Homo sapiens: one gene and its partners. The protein of the gene in region 1 purifies or fractionates together with the protein of each later gene. This does not show direct contact. Each region holds a gene or a part of one and is shown in the gene's direction. Other genes may lie near its edges.

The links.
Region 2: the proteins of GDE1 (region 1) and ATAD3C purify together in Homo sapiens (affinity purification with mass spectrometry; 2 studies listed by BioGRID and IntAct, with this or other methods). This does not show direct contact.
Region 3: the proteins of GDE1 (region 1) and XPNPEP1 purify together in Homo sapiens (affinity purification with mass spectrometry; one large-scale study listed by BioGRID and IntAct). This does not show direct contact.
Region 4: the proteins of GDE1 (region 1) and TMEM109 purify together in Homo sapiens (affinity purification with mass spectrometry, with the first as the bait; one large-scale study listed by BioGRID). This does not show direct contact.
Region 5: the proteins of GDE1 (region 1) and CDK14 purify together in Homo sapiens (affinity purification with mass spectrometry; 2 studies listed by BioGRID and IntAct, with this or other methods). This does not show direct contact.
Region 6: the proteins of GDE1 (region 1) and GAP43 purify together in Homo sapiens (affinity purification with mass spectrometry; one large-scale study listed by BioGRID and IntAct). This does not show direct contact.
Region 7: the proteins of GDE1 (region 1) and BRI3BP purify together in Homo sapiens (affinity purification with mass spectrometry; 2 studies listed by BioGRID and IntAct, with this or other methods). This does not show direct contact.

The regions. Positions count from the first base shown.
Region 1 is NC_000016.10:19,508,599-19,512,098, reverse strand, and holds part of GDE1 (glycerophosphodiester phosphodiesterase 1), read left to right. Parts: intron 1-1,154; coding exon 1,155-1,260; intron 1,261-3,500. UniProt on the Homo sapiens protein: Hydrolyzes the phosphodiester bond of glycerophosphodiesters such as glycerophosphoinositol (GroPIns) and glycerophosphoethanolamine (GroPEth), to yield a glycerol phosphate and an alcohol.
Region 2 is NC_000001.11:1,448,235-1,452,488, forward strand, and holds the start of ATAD3C (ATPase family AAA domain-containing protein 3C), read left to right. Parts: upstream 1-1,454; 5' UTR 1,455-2,449; coding exon 2,450-2,524; intron 2,525-3,811; coding exon 3,812-3,888; intron 3,889-4,130; coding exon 4,131-4,200; intron 4,201-4,254.
Region 3 is NC_000010.11:109,864,512-109,868,011, reverse strand, and holds the end of XPNPEP1 (xaa-Pro aminopeptidase 1), read left to right. Parts: intron 1-425; coding exon of another isoform or gene 426-483; intron 484-2,699; coding exon 2,700-2,828; coding exon of another isoform or gene 2,829-2,857; 3' UTR 2,858-3,246; downstream 3,247-3,500. UniProt on the Homo sapiens protein: Metalloaminopeptidase that catalyzes the removal of a penultimate prolyl residue from the N-termini of peptides, such as Arg-Pro-Pro. Contributes to the degradation of bradykinin.
Region 4 is NC_000011.10:60,912,814-60,916,957, forward strand, and holds the start of TMEM109 (voltage-gated monoatomic cation channel TMEM109 precursor), read left to right. Parts: upstream 1-1,344; 5' UTR 1,345-1,455; intron 1,456-4,144. UniProt on the Homo sapiens protein: Functions as a voltage-gated monoatomic cation channel permeable to both potassium and calcium. Plays a role in the cellular response to DNA damage.
Region 5 is NC_000007.14:90,728,821-90,732,320, forward strand, and holds part of CDK14 (cyclin-dependent kinase 14), read left to right. Parts: intron 1-3,500. UniProt on the Homo sapiens protein: Serine/threonine-protein kinase involved in the control of the eukaryotic cell cycle, whose activity is controlled by an associated cyclin.
Region 6 is NC_000003.12:115,626,510-115,630,009, forward strand, and holds part of GAP43 (neuromodulin), read left to right. Parts: intron 1-3,500. UniProt on the Homo sapiens protein: This protein is associated with nerve growth. It is a major component of the motile 'growth cones' that form the tips of elongating axons. Plays a role in axonal and dendritic filopodia induction.
Region 7 is NC_000012.12:125,014,145-125,017,644, forward strand, and holds part of BRI3BP (BRI3-binding protein precursor), read left to right. Parts: intron 1-3,500. UniProt on the Homo sapiens protein: Involved in tumorigenesis and may function by stabilizing p53/TP53.

The DNA.
Region 1 (3,500 bases):
AGTAATCCCACTAGTTGGTATCTATCCAAAAGAAAGGAAACTAGTGTATCAAAGGCATACTTGCACCCCCATGTTTATTGCAACACTATTCACAATAGCCAAGATACAGAATCAACCTAAGTGTTCATCAGTGGATGAATGGATAAACTGTGGTAAATATACTCAATGGAATACTATGTAGTTAGCCATAAAAAAGGATGATATCCTGTCATTTACAGCAACATGGATGGAACTGAAGGTATTATGTTAAATGAAATAAGATAAGCCAGGCACAGAAAGGCAAATATTACATGTTGTCACTCATATATGGGAGCTAAAAAAGTTGATCTCATGGAGGTAGAGAGGAGAATGATAGTTACCAGAGGCTGGGAAGGGTTTGGGGTTGGGGGAAGAGGAGAATAAGGAGAATTTGGTTAATGAGTACAAACATACAGTTCGATAGAAGGTATAAATTCTAGTGTTCAATAACATAGTAAAGTGATTATAGTTAACAATCTGTTGTATATTTCAAAATAGCTAGGAGATTTAGATGTTCCTAACACAAAGAAATGATAAATATTTGGGGTGATGGACATCCTAAATACCCTGATTTTATCATTATACATTATGCGCATATCACAAAAATATGTCTAAGTGTATAGCAATAAAAATGTGGAAAAAAGAATATCTATAATTTGGTTCAAATTATTACAGTAGGACAGGCGCAGTGGCTCACACCTGTAATCCTAGCACTTTGGGAGGCCAAGGCAGGTAGATCACTTGAGGTCAGGAGTTCAAGACCAGCCTGGCCACCATGGTGAAACCCCGCCTCTACTAAAAACACAAAAAATTAGCCAGGCGTGGTGTCACACGCCTGTAGTCCTAGCTACTTGGGAGGCTGGGGCGGGAGAATTGCTTGAACCTGGGAGTTGGTAGTTCCAGTGAGCTGAGATTGCACCACTGCACTCCAGGCTGGGCAACAGAGCAAGACTCCGTCTCAAAAAAAAAAAAAAAAATCTTAAAGTAAAGTATCTTTGGACTTTGCTATGGTCGAAAAAAGGAAGTTGGAGAAAACACTCTTTCCTTTTGATTGAGAGACATATGCAAAATGTTTGTTGCAATACAGTTTATCTGTTTCTCTTTTTTCCTACAACGTATTTTCTCTTCTCTTACAGGAATGATTTCCCTGATGAAAAGATCCCTACCCTAAGGGAAGCTGTTGCAGAGTGCCTAAACCATAACCTCACAATCTTCTTTGATGTCAAAGGCCATGCACACAAGGTACAGTTTAAATTGTGGACTTCACTTTGTTAAAAAGACATCTTATTTCATTGACGGTCATTTCCGAAGTTACATATATTTTGTTATTTATTCTTTTTAAAACTTATTTTTATAAATTGTATTTGTTTAATGGAAGTGTACAATGCAGGAATCTATATCATTTAAGGAAACAGTGCATTATGGAACTTTTTAACCTTTTATGGAAACTTTACAAAACCAGCATAAAATGGAAGAGTCAAGTTTCTATTATTTACATAAAGCATTTACAAAAGATATTAAGTAAACAGTAAAAAAGACATTTCTAGAAAAAAACCACTGTAGTAACCTTGAGTTACTTGAAAAAAAGGAATTCCGAAGTTGTACACAAGACCAATTTTATCTAGCTTAAAAGTTAAGGGCCTTATATGGACAACTATGGACTGCATTTAAAGAGAATTCCTATATTAAAAGCTTCTAATAGTTAACAGAACATATACCTTTTACATAGATTTATCCCTTTGTATAATTTATATCCCTTATGTATAGTTTTTTATTCATTGATTTTAGCAGTTATACTTTTATCAGAAAATCATTTATTTTCTTCAAATGTATTTGACATTCCTAGATAAAATTTTGCTTAAATTTTAGGGCCTGCACTTACACTCATAAGAACATATTATTACAGTGAAAATCAGTGGGAAGATATGATTCTGATTACATTTGTTCTCTTATAACCAGCTTTTCAAGTGCAAGTACTTTTTTCCCCATTTGGGCAACTTGAGTATTTTTCCCCTAGCAATATTAATAATCGGTAAGGGCCATCTACTGGTTGAGAATTCTGATGATGCCAATTTTTTTTTTTAATTAATCCCATGATATCATTGAAACCAGTTGTTAAAACCCAAAATGGGCCGGGTGCAGTGGCTCACACCTGTAATCCCAGCACTTTGGGAGTGGATCACCTGAGGTCAGGAGTTCGAGACCAGCCTGGCCAACATGGTGAAACCCCTGTCTCCACTAAAAATACAAAAATTAGCTGGACTTGGTGGCGGGCACCTGTAATCCCAGCTACTCGGGAGGCTGAGGCAGGAGAATCGCTTGAACCGGGGAGACAGAGGTTGCACTGAGCCGAGATTGCGCCAGTAGTACTCCAGCCTGGGTGACAGAGCGAGACTCCGTCTCAAAAAAAAAAAAAAAACCTGAAATGTGGAGCCTAAGTATACACTCTAATTTTATTAACAGTTAATTCCTATTTTTGAAGAAGGAAGATAATGGTAACTAATTTATTATTCTAGTAAACCGATAGTTGTATACGTCTAGGTTTTCCAATTGGTCTGCGTTAGAATCACCTGTACCTATTTTAAAATATAAATTCCTGGGCCATTCTCCCTAGGGAAGAGATTCTGAAAATGTCTAGGGTGGGCTCAAGGAACATGTATTTTTAATGAGCACCTCAGGTGCTCATTGTTGATGTTGCAGCCCACATTTGGGAACCCTGATAGGTCCTACATTTCACCCATGGTATACTGACTTTTATGCTTATTCTCTTAGATTTTTTGAGACAGAGTCTCACTCTGTCACCTAGGCTGGAGTGCATTGGCGCGATCTCGGCTCAATGCAACCTCTGCCTCCGGGGTTCAAGCAATTCTCCTGCCTCAGCCTCCCAAGCAGCTGAGATTAGAGGCATGTGCCATCACACCCGGCTAATTTTTGTATATTTAGTAGAGATGGGGTTTTGCCATGTTGGCCAGGCTGGTCTCAAACTCCTGGCCTCGAGTGATCCGCCCACCTTGGCCTCCCAAAGTGCTGGGATTACAGGTGTGAGCCACCACGCCTGGCTTCTCTTAGAATACTTTTTAAAAAGAAGTAGACATTTAAAAAAGAAAATCTAGCTATTTGAGTCTTCTGAATGGGTGCTCATGGGTGTTCAGCCAAGACTGGGTAGAACATAGTGACCTAATTCACCAAGATGGTAGTAGAAAGGCACAAGTGTAGGCAACAAAGTGGAGCTAGTAGAGCACAGTGGCCAAAATCATGGGCTTGGGACTCCAACAGTCCTTGACTGAGCTCTTACTACAGGGTAACCTTAACTTTGATGAGCTTCAGTTTCTTCATGGGTAAAATGGGGATACTAAAAGCAGTTACCACATAAGGTTGTTGTGAGAATTAAATAATGTAAATGCTAAGAGTTTACAGTGCATGTCTTTGTTCAAACAGAAAAAAAAATGCTTTCTATAGCTTGCCTTCAGTTGCATTAGCGA
Region 2 (4,254 bases), on another chromosome or scaffold:
TTGAGCAGACCAGTTATTAGGAAACTTTCTTAACTCTATTTTTTTATTTTTTATTTTTTGACACGGAGGTCTTACTCTGTCACCCAGGCTGGAGTACAATGGCGTGATCTCGGCTCATTGCAGCCTCCACCTCCTGAGTTTAAGCGATTCTCCTGCCTCAGCATGCTGAGTAGTTGGGATTACAGGTGCTTGCCACTACGGCCAGCTAATTTTTGTATTTTTAGTAGAGATGGGGTTTCACCATGTTGGCCAGGCTGCTGTCGAACTCCTGACCTCAGGTGATCCTGACCTCAGGTGATCCACTCGCCTCAGCCTCCCAGAGTGCAGGGATTACAGGTGTGAGCCACAGAGCCCGGCCTCTTAACTCTATTTCCACAAGAGTTTTTCCTGTTAGTTACTGATTACCCATTGTGTCTTTTTCCTCGAATCACCTGGGAGGAACTATCTTTAAATAAGTGTCGTCCTGTAATGCACTACGGCCGTCTGTGGGTTACCACATTAAGGATAGTTGTCAGTGGCCTCCATGCCTTTCGGTAAGTTGTTTTTTTTTTTTTTTTTGAGACAGAGTCTCATTCGTCGTCGAGGCTGGAGTGCAGTGGCACTGTGTCGGCTCACTGCAACCTCTGTCTTTCCTGGGTTCAAGCAATTCTCCTGCCTCAGCCTCCTGCATAGCTGGGATTGCAGGCATCCACCACCGCACCCGGCTAATTTTTTGTATTTTTAGTAGAGACAGGGTTTCACCATGTTAACCAGGATGATCTCCTGACCTCCTGAACTGCCCGCCTCGGCCTCCCAAAGTGCTGGGATTACAGGCGTGGTGAGCTGCCACGCCGGGCGTACTCTGGCTTTTAAAAGAATGGGGCACATTGCTTTTTCTTGACTACTTCTATCTCTCCTTTTCTCTCTCTCTCTAACTCTGTCTCTCTCTCTCTCTGGCTCTCTCTGTCTCTTTGACTCTGTCTCTCTCTGTCTGTCTCTGTCTCACTCTCTAACTCTGTCTCTCTCTCTGACTCTGTCTCTGCCTGTCTCTCTCTCTCTTTGACTCTCTCTCTCTCTCTGACTTCCTCTGTTCCCTCTGTCAGTCTTTCTCTCTCTTTGACTCTGTCTCTCTGACTCTGTCTCTCTCTCTCTCTGACTCTCTCTCTCTCTCTGACTTTCTCTGTTCCTTCTGTCAGTCTTTCTCTTTCCTCTAAGATTTTTTTCCCTTTCTCTTAGAATCTCTTCTACAGGCTTATTTTTCTAGTTCTTTCTTTTGTAATTTGTGGTTAATATCTGGCCAACTGTTAGTGACAAATTCCTTGCCCAAGAGGATCCTCGACACCTCGACCAGCATATTTTCTCATTTGTTCTTTTAATCTGTCTAAAAATTATGTCGCAGGCCCTTTATCTTTTCCTTGCTGTATGTTAAATATTCGGGTAAGATTCTGGGTTCCGGGCATGGATTCTTTAATCCCCTTCATGATTAACTCCCCAAGGTCCTGCATATTTTCTCAATGGGCCACCGCGCCCGGCCAGAAGATTTTTATGGTAAAATTTTGTGATGGGAAAACTCATCCCGGAAAATGTTGAGACCTGATGCTGAGTCCTCAGCAGCTCAGAGAATACGTACTTCTGTCCCAGGTCACCCAAACATTGACCTGTGTCGGTTCCCCACTAGGAACAAAATGTAACTGAGGACGTTGTCAGATGCTTGTCCTCGTCACCCTGAGCTTGTTGGCTGCTATCTAATTCTTATTCTTTCATTTTCTTGCCCGCACGTTCTTGATAGCAGATCACTGACAACAGCCATTGGAAGCTTAGGAAAAGGGTATGTGCCGGGCGCGGTGGCTCACACCTGTAATCCCAGCACTTTGGGAGGCTGAGGTGGGCGGATCACGAGGTCAGGAGATCGAGACCATCCTGGCTAACACGGTGAAACCGTCTCTACTAAAACTACAAAAATTAGCCGGGTGTGGTGGCGGTCGCCTGTAGTCCCAGCTACTCGGGAGGCTGAGGCAGGAGAGTGACGTGAACCCGAGAGGTAGAGCTTGCAGTAAGCAGAGATCATGCCACTGCACTCCAGCCTGGGCCAGAATGAGACTCCGTCTCAAAAAAAAAAAAAAAAAAAGCATGTGTAACGTGAAAAAATGGACACTTTAGCCATCGCCTGACTTTCTGTTGAATTGGGAAAGAGCCTCCTCCCGTCCACATGGGATGGCCTTCCTGATGTGGCTCTCCAAGACCATCCCTGGAGGGCATAAAACCTCACAAATGCATCAGGCCGTGTGCTGGGGATGGGGCATCGTCACGCCAGGTCTGACTAGGAAGGAGGATGGGGAGGCAGGGCTGGGGGCTTTGAGGTCGAGGCGTGGCCGTGGATTCCAGAAAGCCCCTTGGCTGGTGTGCGTGCCTGCCCAGCGGCATCCGTGTATCCTAACACCTGCCCTCCGTGTCCCTGCATCTGCAGGCCATGTCAAAGGACGCCCTGAATCTGGCGCAGATGCAGGAGCAGACGCTGCAGTTGGAGCAACAGTCCAAGCTCAAAGTGAGTGGGGCCGGTGTGGGCGGGGAGGCCGGGGCACACATGGGGTTCGGGCGTGGAGATTGGTAGGGCTACTGCCGGTGGGTAGGGCCGGGGGTGTGTACATGGGCAGCAGTGGGGCCCAGGGCCAAGCTTGGGCGCCTCATTTCACAGAAGGAAACAAGGGGAGGTGAGAGACGCTGCCGCAGAGCCGCCCGAGAGGGAGGGCCGGTGTTGGTGAGGGCGTCTGGTCGTCCTGAGGGCCTGGATCTTCTTGACATTCTCACCTCATTTCTTTGACTCAGCAGGATTTTTTTTTTTTTTGAGATGGTGTCTTGCTCTGTCGCCCAGGCTGGAGTGCAGTGGTGCGACCTTGGCTCACTGCAAGCTCCACCTCCCGGGTTCACACCATTCTCCTGCCTCAGCCTCCTGAGGAGCTGGGACTACAGGCACCTGCCACCACGCCCAGCTAATTTTTTTTGTATATTTAGTAGAGATGGGGTTTCAGCGTGTCAGCCAGGATGGTGTCGATTTCCTGATCTCCGCCTGCCTCAGCCTCCCAAAGTGCTGGGATTACAGGCGTGAGCCACCGCGTCCAGCTCAGCAAGATTTTTTAATTTTATTTATTTTGAAACGGAGTCTCACTCTGTTGCCCAGGCTGGAGTGCAATGGTGCGATCTCAGCTCACCGCAACCTCTGCCTCCTGGGTTCAAGCCATTCTCCTGCCTCAGCCTCCCAAGTCGCTGGGATTACAGGCACCCACCACCATACTCGGCTAATTTTTGTATTTTTATTAGAGACAGGGTTTCACCATGCTGGCCAGGCTAGTTTTGAACTCCTGACCTCAAGTGATCACCTGCGTCGGCCTCCCAAAGTGCTGGGATTACAGGTGTGAGCCACGGTGCCCGGCCGGTCACCTTCAGTCCTGAGCTCACAGGCGGGGTTCACGTGTTGCCTGTTGTGGGCATTGTAGCTTTAACGTTTAATTGGCAGAAGACAGAAGCTTCCTTAAGCCCAGCCTGAATCAGGGCAGTGGTGTTGGGAGGTCGGCCAGCAGTGGCCCTTGTCAGGGAAGCCACAGTGGGGGCTGTTTCTGCCGCTGGGGAGTTTGGGCCCCTGAACCCATCCCCTCAGTGACTGCCGTCCCGGCCGATGTCACCCGTGTCTGTGTCAGGGTGCGGCGTCTGCAGGTCCCCAGGTGCCCGGGACGCTTGGAGCCCTGCGGTCCTGGGGCGGACGCAACCTCTGGATTGGTGTTGAGCATTTTTCTGGTTTTAAAGGCTTTTCTCTTTTTCTGCGGCTTCTTCTCAGCAACTTGTCAATGAGGATTTACGGAAGCAGGAGGAGTCCGTGCAGAAGCACCATCAGACCTTCTTGGAGTCCATCAGGTGAGCGCTGCCGAGGCCCGGGCCGGCCGCAGATGGAGCCCCCACAGGTGTGAGTCGCTGGTCCCAGGGTGCTCTCCAGCTCTCCCAGGTCTGGCCGCTGTAGGCTGGCTCCTTGGTGGGGACACTGCCCCCCTGTCCTGGCAGGACCAGGCTGCTGTGTCAAGGCCTCACCCTCAACCTGTTCTTGCTACGTGGCGTGGGTCTTTGTTTCCCTCCTGGTCACACCACTGCTTTCCCCACAGGGCGGCTGGCACCTTGTTTGGGGAAGGATTCCGTGCCTTTGTGACAGACCGGGACAAAGTGACAGCCACGGTAAACATACTCATAAAACAGGGCTGGCAGGTGGCTGAGGGGCAGCATGTGGGG
Region 3 (3,500 bases), on another chromosome or scaffold:
CTTCAGACCCTGGACTGGTAAGGCCAGGTCAGATGGCAGTCCTGGGGACATGAGAAAGGCCTGAAGAATCACACAGATGTTCAAGGTCAGAGCAGAAACAAGGGTCAGAAATGGGGTAGGAACTGTTAGCACTAGACAGACAAAACAGTTCCCAAACCAGGAAGCTGGAAGCCAGGAGGACACAAATTCCAGAGCAAGGCAGGGGTCAGAAGTTCCAATGAAAAGCAAATGACTGGTGGGAGCCGAAGGCAGGGTAAGCACGGTGGGTTACTCTCGGAATAAGAATATTTTGTTATCTGAGGCAGCCAATGGCCTTTGAGTGCCTCTCAAGGCAGGAACATTTCCTCACTGGCGCCCACTTGGGCCTCGTTCTTGACACTGTAAAGGAAAGGGTCTTTGGGGGTTAAGGACCTTCCCTTCCACAGGAGCTGTGGAATGGGATTCTCCCAGCTAGAAGCCTCTTCTGCCTGTTCCAGTTCACAGGTGGGTGATGAGAAAGTCCATCCACTTCCTGCTTAGCTTTCCTCTGTGCTTGAGCGCCTCTGCTTAACCATCCGTGCCCTTGGTTCAGCTAAACATTCCCACTCACAGGACCCACATGGGCCTTGCTGATACCGGGTGGGTTATGCAGCTTGTAGATGGATATGGAAAAGGAAACTCAGCCTATCAGCACAATGTCTGGTGTGTCTCTTCAGCAGGAAGAGTCCTTCCAGTGTCCAGGGGCTCTTGTCCAGCCCCTGTAAGTGTTGCCTTAGCTGAGAGGAAATGAAAACACATAGGTGGGCATGGGACCCACCCTGCTTAGAATCCCTCTGCCCCATAGGAACCAGTGTCTCTTGTAATGGCCCTTGGGCACAGCTTCCAGGGACTTAGCAAGGGGCTTTCCAGTAATAAGTCATTTCGCACTCTTGGAAGTCCAAGGCTATGGATTCCTGCCAAGTAATTCTAGGTCATGCAGTCCTTCCTGTCCACATAAAGTGTACCCATCAGGAGGCATTTCTCCCATATGACATTCCCCTTTATCCAGGGAAGTAGTATATGAGGAAGTTTAAGCCAGGCCATTTTTCCTCGAAGGAGAATCAGTCTACTCCCGTGACATTGGACATAGACCAGGGATCTGTGTTACCCAGTGTTTCATTGCTGCACCTTGCATGCCCACATGATTGAACTATTCTTTCGGCCAGTTACTCTTTGTAGGGCAGATAATGTCTTCTTAAAATATCTGGCTTTTAAAATATCTGGTCATTTGCCCTTTACTATTTAGCCTTTATTTTGGAGTCACTTTAGGGAGTTTTTGGTTTGGGTCTGCATCGTCATCACTTATCACCAGATGGCAGCAAAGGACCTTGGTCAGATATGAATATGGCCAGCTGCAGACTGTCAGGGCCTTGTGCTGCTCCTCAGGCTCCACCGAGGCTGTCCACACTCCCACTTTTCCCTCCCTACTTCCAACCAAAAGGGCCATGGGCGTTTGGCTGTGGCCCCAGGCTTACACCAGGATGCTGCCGTTGCCTTACTGTTGAGCTGCTTTGGACAGTAGGCTGCTTTGTAGCCCTGCTGGCCTTGCTGTGGACACATAGCAGTTTGCCTGCTTTTGACATCCTCCCCTGCCCCCATCACTTCCCTGACTCCCAGAAGGGGCTACTAGGCTCTTCTCAGTAGGGATTGGAACCCTGGCTGGGTCACAGCCAGTTGGTAACACCACCCTATCTGTCTGCCCTCAGTCCCTTGTAATTAATGGGTTTGTGTGCCCATCCTGACCCCAGCTGGGCTTTGGTACCTGGCTGGATTGTAGTCCCTGAAAGCAGTACTTCTGTAACATCGCTGCCCTCCAAAATGGCCTTTGACTCATTTATGACAAGCACAGCCATGGCACTATCAGTCTCATCAGCTTCCAGACAGCTACCCCCATAGACAGTGATGAGAGTGGCTTGTTGTCCTCTTGGTAAAACCTGCTTCACTCCAGACTTCACCTTTTCCCGTATACAACCAAGGAGGAGAGTTCACCCTTTTTCCTGCCTCAGAGCTTTTGCCATCATGTCTAGTGGATCAGCCCCTGCCCAGGCACCAAGTCCTGCCAGCAGGTCCTTCCTTTCACTCTCTTTTTTGTCTCCTGCTCTTGTGGCATGTTGAGTTGAGAGTCTGAAAACTAAGTTTACTCCCAGCGCCATTCTGCTGCACCACAGTCTTTAACCACCGCAGGTTTTGGGTTCATCTAGGCAGCTACACTCAAAAGACACCCATGGGCTTGGCTGATCCTAGTTTTTTATTCAGCTTTTTCAGTGGATATAGGATATGTAGCCCAGTGTGTTGGCAGGACAGCTTCGAGTGTCTCTCTCAGCAGGAGTTCTCACAGAGTCCGGGGCTATTCCCCCACTTACCACCTCCCAGGATGGCTCAGGTTTAAGGGAATGAAGCCACACAGGTGGGAGCAGGAGCTACTGGCTTAGAGACTGCTGTCTATAATAGTAAACTGTTCTGGGAGCCTTTTCACCAGAAGCCATGAAGTCTGGTCCTATGTATTTCCGGGGAAACAGAACACAAGGAAAATACTTACCTGTGAGTAAGGAGAAAGGGTGTTGCACACCTTTTCTCTCAGCTTGTGATCTTAGCACATGGGGGCCTTTGCTGTTGACCTGTGTAGCCAGTTGTTAAAGATGTAGTGGTGAATACCGTGTCTGTCCTTCTCTTCCCTGCAGTGCGACTGGCTCAACAATTACCACCTGACCTGCAGGGATGTGATTGGGAAGGAATTGCAGAAACAGGGCCGCCAGGAAGCTCTCGAGTGGCTCATCAGAGAGACGCAACCCATCTCCAAACAGCATTAATAAATACCTCCCCGGTTTTGTTTTTGTAAAATGCTCTGGAGGAAGGAAGAAACGTGGCAGATCCCTGACATCTTTCCCCTTTCCTTTCCTTCTTCCCTACCTCCCCTTTTTACTTTAGACTTTAAGAAGAACAGAAAATCTTCTTATCCTCTTTGATATTTTATTGCAAACACTCAGTCTTTTATGATTTTTTAATTGTTGAGAACAAGCCAAGAATAAAATTGCTGCACCAGAAGGAGGGTCCCTCCAAAGTTGAACACTTGGTGAAAGGAAGATGCCCCGACTTCTTTGGCCAGTGATGGGGAATCAGTGAGTGCTCCATGATGGTCATGTTCCAGGTGCTAGTACATCATTCATGATCACCTTAATGCTCATGAGACTATATTTATGATCAGTGAATAAAAATGTCAGAACTGTGCTTTGTCTTAGCTGTCTCTTTCTTCATGGTGCTGTCCCCCGGCATGTCGGGTGAGCTGATCTCCAGGGCTGCTGGCTCTGTGGCAGACATTTCCTAGGTGGAAGGGCCCCTTTGAGAAGAGACCCCTGGCCTCCCCGCACATTTGGGGGCTTAGTTGTAAGCTTTTTCTTTTCTCTAGAAAACCTAATATTATGGTGTTTTTATCTCAGTTTTTTTTCCTGATTTTAAAATATGTCATTCCTATGCAAAAAACA
Region 4 (4,144 bases), on another chromosome or scaffold:
ACTCCACTCACTCAAGATTCACCGCGTTCCACCCCTCATAGGAGGGAGCGTGCAGGTGAGTGGGTGCAGGAGCCAGAGCGTGCGCTTTTGGACACCGGCAGGAGCGAACTCCGTGCAGGCCCCGGGGCAGTGTCCAGGCAGAGTGCCTGAGGCTCCTGAAGCCCCAGAGGGCATGTTACAGTGTTCTTTTGGCTCTGTCGTCCGTGGACAGCTTAAGTGTTAACAGCTCCGTGGGCCCGCGGTTGCCCTCCACCAGCAAGGGCAGAGGGCCAGCGTGACAGCTTTTGTATCCGCACTCGTGGCTCCCGAGCTCTTGTCCAGCGTCCAAGAAAAATAAAGCTGCACGAACAAATTAAAGGACAAATGCCTGGGATTTTATTGCTGATCAAAGTGGATTTCAGAGGGAAGGTGAGCTGAAAAGAGGGGGGTGGGACAGGCCGGTATGTAGTCTTCCCTTGAAGTCCAGCTATCTCCAGCCAGATTCGTCTCAGAAGTTACGCCTTAAGCTGTCCCTCTGAAGACAAGCTGCTTCTCTCTGACATCCAGCCATGGTCGTCCCCTCATCCAGCTGCTTCTCCTCTCTGCCAGATGAGTCTGGGGTCTTTCTAGGCACAGGATGAGGCAGGGCAGAGCCATGGGTGGCTTAGGAAAAGGCAACATTCAACTGGAAAAACATGGATAGAAGTTCTCACTTTGGGCCATGGTTTCAGGCTTTTTGGCTTGAGGGTGGGGTTTCACCAGGGACCCGCTCTTTTCTACCTAGCATTTATCTGCCTCCTGTCCCTATGCACTGCCTTTGTGGCAGAAAAAGGAGAGTGAGAGTTGGTTCCTCTCTTTCTCTGAAATTCTGAGCTAACATTTGGGAGCCGTCTACAGTATTCAGGTATGAATTTTCTCTCTGGGGGAGCGCATTCGTTTTCCTAGAGCAGTGTGCTTTTAATTGCTCCTTTAATATCTTTCTCTTTTGTGCCTTTTTAGCGCGAAAAGTGTATGGGAAGACTAGGTGCTCGTTAGCGGCTCGGTTAGAACTACATTGCCCACAATGCCCCAGGGAACATTTGTAGCTCTAGAACTACATGACCCAAAATGCCGAGTGGTGGCAAGAGGAGGATTAGCTTCCACTCCGATTTCAAAGATCCAGTTTACCCACTCTACAGCCCAGATATAGTCACTTATTTCCCCTTTCCAGCCAGAGACTTCCGTTCCCTGCTGGAACTTCCGATCCCATTCTTCTCTCGGTGGGAATGCTTGTGGGGGGAAAAAGAAACGCAATAGATAAAGCGGGGCGCATGCGCTCCCGGCACAGGCTTCGATTGTGAGGAAGGCCGGCTAGTCTCCGAGCTCATCCCGCCTTGCGCATGCGGAGAAGGTAAACCAGCGCCCCGAGTTGAGGCGCGGGTTTGGTGGCGCGTTTCAGCGAAGTCGCACGTGAAGGATAGCAGTGGCCTGAGAAAGGTGAGAGCGGGCCGAGGTCGGAATGTGGGGCAGCGCACGGGAAGGGGAGACAGCAGCCGCTGCAGGCGGCACCAGGCGGAGCCGCGAGGCCTGGAGAGTCCGAGTGGGGAGGGGTCCGCGCGCCCAGCGTGCGAAACAAACCGGGGACCCGGATCCCCGTTGCTATGCAACCGGGGGCGTCGTTTCCAGGCAACCCGGGAGGCGCACGTTTCCGGGGAGAAGAGGGTTGCGGCGAGGTTCCGAGGTCCGGCAGAGGTGGAGCGGCTCCCGGGCGTGGGGACCAGGCCAGCGCCAAGCCCGAGCCCCCGAACCCCGACCCACGGCCCAGCCTCCTGCAGCCTCGGCTCGAGCCCTTCGGGGGGCCCCAAACTCATGGGTCGCGCCACGTTCCTTGCCAGCGACGCTACCCCTCAGCGCTTGGCAGGGGACGCGCCGTTCGAAATAGCACATGCCACTGACACCCTGTCTCCGGGAGGCTGCGCCCCGGTTAGGGCGCGGAGCGGCAGGGAAGCTGCCCCTTTGCCGTCGCCCTGCCCCCAAACAGTTGCTGGGCAGCAGCTGTCAGGGGTTTAGTGGGAGCTGCCCCCAACCTGCCAGGGCGCTGACTTCATTCTCTGCAGTGGCGGCTTCGCCTTGTTTAGGACCTTCCTTTAGACTCAGCTGTGCTTCTCGTGTGGCTGCTGTATATTTGGATCTACTATTAAAATAACCTCCCTCCTCACCTCTCCATGGCTTTCTCGTTCGACCCTCACGGTTTCTTGGCAGGTTGCTAATATTCATTTAATAAACATTTATTAGTCATCTTTCCTACTAGGCGCTGGGGATTCCAACATGTCAAGTCTAACCGGGAGTCGCTCGGTCTACTGGGGAAGGCAGGTTGATAAACTGCTAAATTATGCTACGATATATAGTCAGTGGTAATGTGTGTGCTGCAACATTTCTATAGATGTTTAGTTTACAAAGCGCTTGCTGCAGAAATATCTTAACTCCTTACAGCAACTCTTCACCTGGGTTCACTCCCTTTTACGTTTGAGGAGACTGCAACTCAGGCAGGTTAAGTAACAGGCGTAAGGTAGTAGCTTCTAGTCCGTGGCACACTTGAGCCTGGGACGGAAGTCAGGGGTCCTTTGTACACTGCTGCACTTTTGAAGCTTTGCTTAGACTTTTCCCTGAGCTGCTGGCTATGCATCCGAAATTCCTGAGGAGCTTTGCAAAACAAAGGGCTGAGTCCCTCTCTGGAAGAGTCTGAGTGAGTAGCCCTGGGTGGGGCAGACGTCCTTGTTTAACAGGCTGCACAGGCAGTTCCGATGGGCAGCCAAAGTTGAGAACCGCCGCTCCTTAGGGGCAGCTATGAGCAGCGGCGGGACAGTCAGAGCCGGTAGAGGGCACTTTTTGCCGCCCCTCCTGCCACCTGGTGATTCATAGCATGAAATGAAACTAACAAAAGGAAAGAGAAGAGGAGGAAGGAGCCTTGATTGGGAGGGGGGGGCGCGAAATGCCCCATCCTACCCTTGTAGCAAACCACAGCTAAACATAAGCAGTGGCGCCTTCTCACTAACACAATAAGTAAAGCTGTTTCCCCAGCCAGGCTGGGCTCTCCAGACCCACCTGAGCCATATTGCAGCTGCCGAACAGAAGTGGCAGGTTTTGTCTCCCACCTTTTGCTGTCCTCTCATACCTCTTGGTACAAAACCATGGCCTGTAAGCCCAGAAGGCAGATGGTCTCCTGGTATGTGTTCCCTCGGAGGAGTCTGGATGTCCTTCCACTTTGAGCTTGTTGGTGAACTTCAGCTCCATGAGGGCAGGGACTATGTCCACTATCAAGGCAGCATGCGGGTATGGGACAAGCAAAAAGGCAAGATTGAGATCCTGGGTACTGGAGTCAAGTCCCAGCTCTGCTGTGTGATCTTGGATAAGTCACTCAACCTCTCTAAGCCATACTTTTCTGAGTAAGATGAAGAGGGTAATAATACCTTAAAAGATTGTTGTTAGAGTTAAATGAAGTGATGAAACAATAAGCACTCTGTGAATTATAAAGCACCACACAAAAATTATTATAACATATGTATATGTATAGATATGTATAACATTTGTATTATTATGAGTTGTTAATTGAGTGCCTATTATTTGTCTGAGGCCAGGCATTGCAGAAGGTGAAGAAGTTTTAAGACATGCTTCCTCCTCTCAGAGGCTGAGACTGTTTCCATGCCTTTAGTAAAACTATTTGATTAGGCCAAAGTGAGGAGGCCTAATAGCAGTGAGTCCATACTGCCTGAGATTCACCTGGAAAAAAATGAGAAGGAATCCTATTAAAGAAAACAATTTGAAAAAGCAGACCAGCCAGCCAATCTCTGCACTCATTATCTCCAAAGGATACACTACACAATCCTGTTAGGTTTGGTATCTGGTGCACTTCAGAACATCAGTCTGCATAACGATGCCAGCCTCACTGCAGAGGGCTTATTTCAAGGTCTCCTAGCTCCCCTTAACTGGGGCAGACAGCCACTGGAGAGTTGGGGCTGGCACAGAACAAGGCAGGCTGCTGTGGGAGGAGCAGCTTATGGCACCCTGACCTCCTAGGGCTGAGGAAACGATATTTGATCCCTCCTGGTGGAGGTCCTTGGATAAAGGATCCAACCCAAGATAGCAACCCTGCTCTTTTAAGTCCCCAACATGGTTATGACCCAGA
Region 5 (3,500 bases), on another chromosome or scaffold:
TTCAGCATAGGGACTCTTGGTGAAGACCTAGTCGTTTTATTTAAGTACTCTCAAATGTCGCTGTCTCTTGATCTTGTTTTTGTTACTGGGTGTTTCTCACAAAATGGACTTACCCAATTTATTTTTTTTAGGACATATAAACCTAGCTGTCACTATTCTGAGATGATCAAGAAGGGACTGAGGACCCTTCAGTTCTCTATGCCAACTTTCTCATGATTTTTTTTTTTTTCATTCGGTATGACTCTTCAATCTGATATCCACTCTGCCTGGTATCCAAGCCCCAGTTGAATTCTCTGATTCAACCTCTTCAGAGAATAAATCTCTGGCGGGACTAGGAAGGGATAGGGGGCTGGCCGAGGGAGACTGGGGCAAAGACCTCCACCTTAAATTCACTCCAACTAATCATATCATTTGTAGCCCCAACTTGAACTTCAGCTTCCAGTTTGTGAGTATTTTTGGGATTCTGAAGTATGAATTGACTTATTTCTTACTGGCTTATGCCTTGGATCATGTAGGTATCAAGGTTTTTTTTTTTTTTTTTTTTTTTTTTTCCCCACTCATCCTAGGCAATGTGACTTCTCAACCATTTGTGTCCTGTCTTTACATTTTTATTTCTATCTCGTCTCTAGTGTTCTCTTTACTCATTTTGATTGCCCTTATGGGTTTTAATTTTAGTATTGTTTTAGTATGAATTGGTAAGGGGGAGAGATAAATACATGTTTTCAAGCCATCAAGTTTCACTGGAAGTTTTCACAGTTTCTCTATTGTATTTTTTAGTTTCTTTAGATCATCTTGGGCTTACCCTTTCCTGGTTCACCCTGGGATGACTTTTTTTAATATATATTAGGTCATTTATATTACTTTGTGTGGGAACTGCTTTGCTTTCTTTTTATTTTAGGAATTTTTGCTTCAATTCAATGTGCCCTGGAAAAATGTCTTTTCTCTTACCTTATCAAACTGGAAATGGCTTCGTTTTCTCTTTCAGCAGGATGCTATAATATCCTGTTTTTTTCTGAGTCCTTTCTGTTTGCTGCCCTTTTAAAAAATATATTTTTTCTTTTTTTAAAATTATACTTTAAGTTCTGGGGTACATGTGCAGAACATGCAGGTTTGTTACATAGGTATACACTTGCCATGGTGGATTGCTGCACTCGTCAACCTGTCATTTACATTAGATATTTCTCCTAATGCTATCCCTCCCCTAGCCCTGGTGTATGATGTTCCCCTCCCTGTGTCCATGTGTTCTCATTGTTTAACTCCCACTTATGAGTGAGAACATGTGGTGTTTGGTTTTCTGTTCTTCTCTTAGTTTGCTGAGAATGATGGTTTCCAGCTTCATCCATGTCCGCGCAGAGGACATGAACTCATCCTTTTTTATGGCTGCATAGTATTCCATGGTGTATATGTGCCACATTTTCTTAATTCAGTCTATCTTTGATGGGCATTTGGGTTGGTTTCAAGTCTTTGCTATTGTGAACTATGCTGCAGTAAACATACGTGTGCATGTGTCTTTATAGCAGAATGATTTACAATCCTTTGGGTATATACCCAGTAATGGGATTGCTGGGTCAAATGGTGTTTCTAGTTCTAGATCCTTGAGGAATTGCCACACTGTCTTCCACGATGATTGAACTAATTTACACTCCCACCAATAGTGTAAAAGCATTCCTATTTCTTCACAGCCTTTCCAGCATCTGTTGTTTCCTGATGTTTCAATGATCATCATTCTAACTGGCGTGAGATGGTATCTCATTGTGGTTTTGATTTGCATTTCTCTACTGACCAGTGATGATGAGCTTTTTTTCATGTTTGTTGGCTGCATAAATGTCTTCTTTTGAGAATTGTCTGTTCATATTCTTTGCCTACTTTTTGATGTTGTTTTCTTTTTTCTCTTGTAAATTTGTTTAAGTTCTTTGTAGATTCTGGATATTAGCCCTTTGTCAGATGGATAGATTATAAAAATTTTCTCCCATTCTGGAGTTTGCCTGTTCACTCTGATGATAGTTTCTTTTGCTGTGCAGGAGCTCTTTCGTTTAATTAGATCCCATTTGTCAATTTTGGCTTTTGTTGCCATTGCTTTTGGTGTTTTAGTCATGAAGTCTTTGCCCATGCCTGTGTCCTGAATGGTATTGCCAACGTTTTCTTCTAGGGTTTTTATGGTTTTAGGTCTTACATTTAAGTCTATAACCCATCTTGAGTTAATTTTGTATAAGGTGTAAGCAAGGGATCCAGTTTTGGCTTTTTACATATGGCTAGCCAGTTTTCCCAACACTATTTATTAAATAGGGAACCCTTTTCCTATTGCTTTGTTTTTGTCAGGTTTGTCAGAGATCAGATGGTTGTAGATGTGTGGTGTTATTTCTCAGGTCTCTGTTCTGTTCATTGGTCTATATATCTGTTTTTGTACCAGTACCATGCTGTTTTTGTTACTGTAGCCTTGTAGTATAGTTTGAAGTCAGGTAGTGTGATGCCTCCAGCTTTGTTCTTTTTGTTTAGGATTGTCTTGGCTATGCAGGCTCCATATGAAATTTAAAGTAGTTTTTTCCAGTTCTGTGAAGAAAGTCAATGATAGCTTGATGGGGATAGCATTGAATCTATAAATTACTTTAGGCAGTATGGCCATTTTCATGATATTGATTCTTCATATCCATGACCATGGAATGTTTTTCCATTTGTTTTTGTCCTCTTATTTCTTTCAGCAGTGGTTTGTAGTTCTTCTTGAAGAGGTCCTTCATATCCCTTGTAAGTTGGATTCCTAGGTATTTTATTCTCTTTGTAGCAATTGTGAATGGGAGTTCACTCATGATTTGGCTGTCTGTTTGTCTGTTATTGGTGTATAGGAATGCTTGTGATTTTTGCACATTGATTTTTTATCCTGAGACTTTGTTGAAGTTGCTTATCAGCTTAAGGAGATTTTGGGCTGAGATGATGGGGTTTTCTAAATATACAATCATGTCTCTGCAAACAGAGGCAATTTGACTTCCTGTTTTCCTAATTGAATACACTTTATTTCTTTCTCTTGCCTGATTGCCCTGGCCAGAACTTCCAATACTATGTTGAATAGGAGGGGTGAGAGAGGGCATCCTTGTCTTGTGCCGGTTTTCAAAGGGAATGCTTCCAGTTTTTGCTTATTCAGTATGATACTGGTTGTGGGTTTATCATAAATAGCTCTTATTATTTTGAGAAACATCCCATCAATACCTAGTTTCTTGAGAGTTTTTAGCATGAGGGGCTGTTGAATTTTGTCAAAGGCCCTTTCTGCATCTTTTGAGATAATCATGTGGTTTTTGTCCTTGGTTCCGTTTATGTGATGGATTACATTTATTGATTGGCTTATGTTCAACCAACCTTGCATTCCAGGGATGAAGCCGACTTGATCATGGTGGATAAGCTTTTTGATGGGCTGCTGGATTTGGTTTGCCAGTATTTTATTGAGAATTTTCTCATCCATGTTCATCAGGGATATTGGCTTGAAATTTTCTTTTTTTGTTGTGTCTCTG
Region 6 (3,500 bases), on another chromosome or scaffold:
GTGGGCAAAGGAGGAATAAAATAAAATAATCCCTAATATTGTATTGCCTTATGATTTTCAAATATCTTGGGGCTTACTTTAAATAGCTTAATTGCCATGTGTATTGCAGATGATTAAAAACTTGGCAAGGTGTGATTTATGTCTACAAAGCAAGAAAACTATGAGGTGTTTCTTTTGTTGAAAAATAATGACTTTAGTTTGTAATTGAAGTGTAAAGAATTTCATGCAAGCAAGTAGTCCCTCTACTCCCCAGCCCCCCATCCATGCCAATATCTGCTTTTTTCCTCATGCAACAAATAAATCTTATCTCTGAGAGTGTGATCTGTGGTTTAAAATTCCGACCTCTCTGCCTTTCCTTGCAGTGTTGGGAAGGTGTGGAAGGATGCTGCCTTGCTGCTTGGTGCAGGCGATTCTTCCTAGTGATAAATTGGATTCCTCCCAAATCTCTCTGAGCCACACCCAGTGTCACTCAGGGACTTAGTGAATTAATTAAGCTGAGCCATTTTACTTAATATAATTGAAGCTTCTCGTTCTTTTTTTTTTTTTTAATAGTGATTTTCACCACAGGTTTCCAAATTTAAACAGAAAAAATATTTGAAGGGCATTTTCTTTCTTTTTTCTTTCTTTTTTTTTTTTTTTTGCCAAATTATCTGGACTTGCAGAGAACCTTAGAAAATTCATGGTGAGTCTAGAAAGTGTTCATTTCTGGTGACTCTATAATTCCTTCTAACCCATGCCAGGGCGCATACACAATGAGCCCTGATCTCTCCTGCTGACAGAGTCTGTGTAACTCTCTTCCCCACCCCCTCCCCTACCAACCCATGCTGAGGCAACTGGAATAAGAAAATGCAGAGTTAATTTTCTTTCTTGCTGAGCTGGCAAAACTACAGAAACCTCCTTTGATGTTTCAAGCTAAAGGGCAGTACTCCTGTTCACCGAGAGGGAGAGTGGCTTGGGGTCTCCTTTGCCTCTGTCATAGTGAAATTGCCAGTGTTATTCCTGGGGCTGAATTAATCCACAGACTTCAGAATTTTACCTGGCCCCATAAGGAAGGGTACTGGTGTTCTTTCAGGCAAGAATAGAGCATATATATTAACCAATCGTATTGATAAAGTAAGACAAGTCTTCCTCTATTAATAGTTCAAAGAATGCACATAACCAGGTCATCTCAAGAGAAGGTATAGCAGCATTTAACTATTCACTTCCCTATTAGTATTAATAAAGGCATTAGGGCAACCAAGCAGTGGCTGTTGCAAACCAAAGAAGTGATTTCATACAGGAATTCTCCCTTTTCAATTTGTGAAGTGTGGTCAGGTGGCTTTTGTACCTTTGTAATTAAATCTTCATAACATTTTCAGAAGTGTTGGGAAGAATATTATACTGTGAGTCCTTAGTGGAGGCCACTTACTGACTGTGAGCTTTAATAAACCACATCACCTTGGGTTTCAGTTTCCTTCTGTAGAATGAAGAGTAAAAACCAAAAACCAGACACAAATGAACACTTTGCTTACCTTAAGGATTTTTGTAGGGCTTAAACATACTTGATGTGAAAATAAAGATCAATATAAGAAATTTTTATTCTCCCCAAGTTTTGCAATTTGAGGCTTGTCTTAGAGGCCCCAGTTTTGCAGGATGATCTAGTGCCTGCTGTGTCTACCTTTCCCTGTTAGAGATGAGTTCCTTCTAGTCTTAGTTGAGCCTTCTGCTTGTGCTCTTGCTCCTCCCCCCGTGTTTTCCCCAGAGCCCCAGTCCCTCATGCCCTGCTCTTTCTTGAGATTTCATCTTCTTGTGCTGCACTGGCTCCTTTCCTTATAGTTTATGAATATGCTTTTGCCTCATCTATCTTAAAAGATTCTCTCCTGACTCTATGTCCCCATCTCTATAGTTCTCTGTCTCACTCTCCCTTTAGAACAAAGTTCCAAGTACTCTCCACCCTCATTTTCTCCTCTTCTTCACTCCCCATTCACTATTCCATCTAGTTTAATTTGGCTTTGATTTTCATAATTTCACTGAAAAACATATTCTGAAAGGGTGTCACATCCAGTGACCCTTCATTTTACATCTTATTTGATGTCTCTTTGGCATTTTGTGTTGTTGTCAATCCCTGTTCCTGAAACTGTCCCCTTACTGGGTCTGCATGATATTAATAGCTCTCCTTATTCTCCCTCTCAGATAAGACCCTGCTCAGTCTCCTTATAGGCTTCTCTTGCTCTCTTCACCCACCTCCCCAAATCTATGATCTCCTGGATCATAATCTTCATTCATTCCACTCTTCTCGTTTGACTCACTAATCCTAGGTGATCTCATCAGGTCATCCACATCCAAATCTTTAGCCACCTGTGTGATTTCCAGATCTGTAGATCAGATGTCTGTTTTTAGCTTCTGATCCATAGTTATCTTGGTCTAAGTGCTTCATTTCAGAGACAAGTTTGTTAGGTACAAAACCCAACTCAGTGTCTTCTGTTGTGTATCACACTTGATCTTCCTCACTACAATTATTGCTCTGATACTGTCCATCCAGCCTCAGAGCTCTAGGAACCTGAGAGTAATCCTGAATGTATTTTATTTCAACTCCCATATCCAGTTTCTAAATCCTTTGATTCCTTGATTCTTGTTTAAAAGATTGAATAAATCCTCTGCTTTTCTACCCTGTTTATATAAATAACCTGGCACAGACTTTTCATGACTACTCATCTGGACAAAAGCAGTAACTTTCTATGTGGAGTTCTACCACCACATTGTTCTTTAGTTTACCTTGCAAATAACACCACAGCTATCTTTACAAAATGCAAATCGGGTTTTGTTATTTTCTTTGTTAAAATATAAACTCTTCAGCATCAATGACACAATCTAGTTTTGCCTGCTTTTCTAGTGCCAAATTCCAACAGCCCCCCTGCTCTTTTTTTTTTTTTTACCTGATGACACCATGCCAAGATTTCAGGCCTTGGTGCCTTCGCTTGTACTCCACTCTCTGCCCATGTTACCCTTCCCTCTCAGCCTGAAATATTCCCACTTTCCCTGCAAGAGTTAGCTCTTTGAAGCCATTCTTAACCTTCCTAATTAAGTTTTCTTCTACCTTCTTTTTGCCCATGCTGTATTTTGTACTATCTCTATTATCACTTATTGCACTATTTGACATTTATTTTTTCACATTCTGGTGTCTACCCTGTGAGCTTCTTGGGGAAAAGGATGAAAACATAATTCTTGTTTTATCTCTACCATAATACTTGGTACATAAAATAACTCATGTTAACCATGAATAATCTGTTTGCTAAATAAATATGGAACCAGGTTTATAGTCTTTTCACAGGCTGTAGCATATCTAAATGGATAGAATCACTAGGAGATTTTTAAAAAAATGTCTTGGCATGAAATTTTAAAGTGGAACTGATCATCAGTGATTCTTGTTATTCACTTATAGACATGACAGCCATCAGTTTTTAATAAAAGCAGCCACAAAATGAACCCATTTATAGACTGTATTTCTCTGAACTCTCATA
Region 7 (3,500 bases), on another chromosome or scaffold:
CGTGCCCCATGGTGTGCCAGGTAAACAGGGATCTCCTAGCTGCCCCCGCTCCACTGCTCTCCTTCTGTCCACAAGGTGGAGGCCGCTCTTCCCCTGGGCCTTTCCAGAGGAAATTCCCCAGCTGGGCTCTTTCCAGCCCCACCGCCCTGGTCCCTGGTCCCAGCTGCCACCTGTCTCACGGGAAGGTCTGCAGTTGCTGCATGTGGCAGGGTTCCTAAGACCATCTACAGGCTCACCGGTTCCCTAGGAGCACTGGCAGGACTCAGCATATAGTTGTCCTCACAGCCGTGATTTATTGTGACGGAAGGACGCAAACACCATCAGCAAAGGGAAAAGGTGCGCGAATTCCCGGGCAGGCCAGGCCCAAGCTTCAGAGTTCTCTCCCTGTGGAGTCATACGGGACACACTTAATTCCCCCAGCAGAGGGTGCCCACCAAGGACTCCCTGCCCAGGCTTTTTACTGGGGGCTGGTCATGTAGTCACCCTCTGCTTGACACGTGTCAAAATTCTAGACTCCCAGAGGGAACGCAGGTGTTGTCATAAACCACATCATTTGTGTCAACAGCCTAGGCCTGGCATCTCCAGGCTGCACTCTGGCCCCAGCTCTGCACCTGGCACAAAGAGGCCCTTTTTGTTTGTTTTTGTTTAGGATCTCACTCTGTTGCCCAGGCTGGAGTGCAGTGGCTCAATCACAGCTCACTACAGCCTCAACTTCCTGGGCTCGTGATCCTCCCACCTCAGCCTCCCGAGTAGCTGGGACCACAGGCCCATGCCACCACACCTGGCTAATTTTTGAATTTTCTGTAGAGACAGGGTCTTACCATGTTGCCCAGGCTGGTCTCAAACTCTTGGGCTCAAACCATTCTACTGTTTCAGCCTCCCAAAGTGCTGAGATTGTAGGCGTGAGCCACCACACCCAGCCCACCCTTGGTTAATAAGAGCAGGAGGGCTGTGGGTCCCACTGCTTAGCCAGTCATGTGGGCTGAAATGTGCTCCTCAAGAATATGTGTTCCAGTCCTAATCCTGGACCTGTGAGTGAGCCCTTGTTTGGGAGTGGGGTCTGCAGATGTGATAAAGTTAAATGAGATCGTCTTGGATTAGGGTGGACCCTCAGTGTAATGATTGCTGTCCTTATAAGAAGTGGGGAATTTGGACACAGAAACACCAAGAAACATAGGGAGAAGACGGCCATGCGAAATGAGAAACAGGGACTGGAGGGACGGAGCCACAAGCCAAGGAACACTGGGACCACCAGAAGCTGGAAGAGGCGAGGAAGGATCCTCCCTTGAACTTTCAGAGGGAGTGTGGCCCCACCAAGACCTTGATTTCAGACTTCCAGCCTCCAGAACCGCAAGTGGATGAATTTCTGTTGTAAACCACCCAGTTGGTAGTGGTTTGTTGCGGCAGTCACGGGAAACCATTATACCATAGCCCTGTTACATGCGGAATCTCTCAGCAGCGCCCATTGGTGCTTGACACCCAGAGATGGGGGAGTGGGGTCCACTGGCCATGATGGGCACACTGGTTCATACCTGTTGACACCCCAGGCCATTCAGAAATGTCTCCAGCCTTAATTCATTGAGTTCAACCTTTAAGAGGCCTTAGGCCAACTCAGTCACCTCACTGCTCAGACAAAGAATCAGAGGCGTCAGCATAGCCAGAGGACACTGTGCACCTGGCAGCCCCCTGGGGCCACTCATGGCCCCTCCAGGGACTTGGCAGAGTTAACGCACCCTCCCCCAGATGCAGCCACCGCGTGCAATCCTCTTAGCTTCCGTATCCACCACCTGCCCGGATTGTCAAACTCTCTGTGTTTTCGTCGCCACCCATTGAACCCTGGAGAAACAAACCTGATTGCAGAAAATCGCACGCAGCTTGGAATGAAAAACTACAGAGTAGGAACAGCCTCCTAATCATATGGAAGAAGCCCAGAATAGAGGCATCGGCAGCGGATCCACGAGCCCTGAATGCCTGCATTCATCAGGGGAGCAGCTGGCGCGTTCTGGAGGCGAAACGAGCTTGCTTCCGTGTCGAAGCTTTTCTAGTTCTGTTTGATGCGTAAGCTTCAAGGCATCCGAAGCCCTTTGGAATTCGTGTCTTATGCGTAGAAGTTTGAGTGCAAAATGCTTTACAGGAAGCCATACACCAACGTTGGATATTCTGGTAAAAAAGGTTTCTGTGAGCACAATTCTATAATTTCTTTCTTCAGTGTTTTTTTTTTTTTTGAGTCTGGTTAAAATGGGAACTCTGTAGCCCCGAATGGTCTAATAGCAAAAAAATGTGAGCCCCCTAGGTGATGTGAAGTTTTCTAGTAACCATGTCAAAAGAGTAAAAAGAAATGGTGAAATTAGTTTTTCTTCCTTTTTTGGGGGGGAGGGGGTGGGGAGTGGGGGGTAGGAGGGACGAAGTCTCACTCTATTGCCCAAGCTGAAGTGCAATGGCGCTATCTCGGCTCACTGCAACCTCTGCCTCCTGGGTTCAAGTGATTCTCCTGCCCCAGCCTGCCAAGTAGCTGGGATTACAGGCATGCACCACCACACCCGGCTAATTTTTCTGTATTTTTAGTAGAGACAGGGTTTCACTATGTTGGCCAGGCTGGTCTTGAGCTCCTGACCTCGTGATCCGCCCGCCTCAGCCTCCCAAAGTGCTGGGATTACGGGCATGAGCCACTGCGCCCAGCCTTTTTTTTTTTTTTTTTTTTTTTTTTTGAGACAGAGTCTTGCTCTGTTGCCCAGGCTGGAGTGCAGTGGTGCAATCCCAGCTCACTGCAACCTCCACCAACCCAGGCTCAGGTGATCCTCCCACCTCAGCTTCCCAACTAGCTGGGACCACAAGTGTGCACCACCACATCTGGCTAACGTTTGTATTATTATTATTATTTTTTTTTTTCTGAGACCGAGTATTGCTCTGTCGCCCAGGCTAGAATGCAGTGGCCGATCTCATCTCACCACTGCAACCTCCACCTCCCGGGTTCAAGCAATTCTCGTGCCTCAGTCTCCCGAGTAGCTGGGATTACAGGCACCTGCCACCATGCCTGGCTAATTTTTGTATTTTTTTTTAGTAGAGATGGGGTTTCACCATCTTGGCCAGGGTATTCTCGAACTCCTGACCTCATGATCCACCTGCCTCGGCCTCCCAAAGTGCTAGGATTACAGGCGTGAGCCACCGTGCCCCCCTAATGTTTTTTTTTTATAGAGATGGGGTTTTGCCATGTTGCCCAGGGTGGTCTCGAACTCCTGAGCTCCAGTGATCTGCCTGCCTTGGCCTCCCAGAGTGCTGGGATTACAGGCATGTGCCACCATGCCCAGGTGAAATTAATTTTAATAAGATATTTTAGTTAACCCAATATATTAAAAACAACTTATAATTAATAGAAAATTATCAGGTGTCTCACAGTTTTTTGGGTAACTAAGGCCTTTGAGACAGTCTCTATTTGACACTTAGAGCGCACATCAGTTCTGACTTGTCACATTTCAAGGGCTCAGCACACGATAGATGGC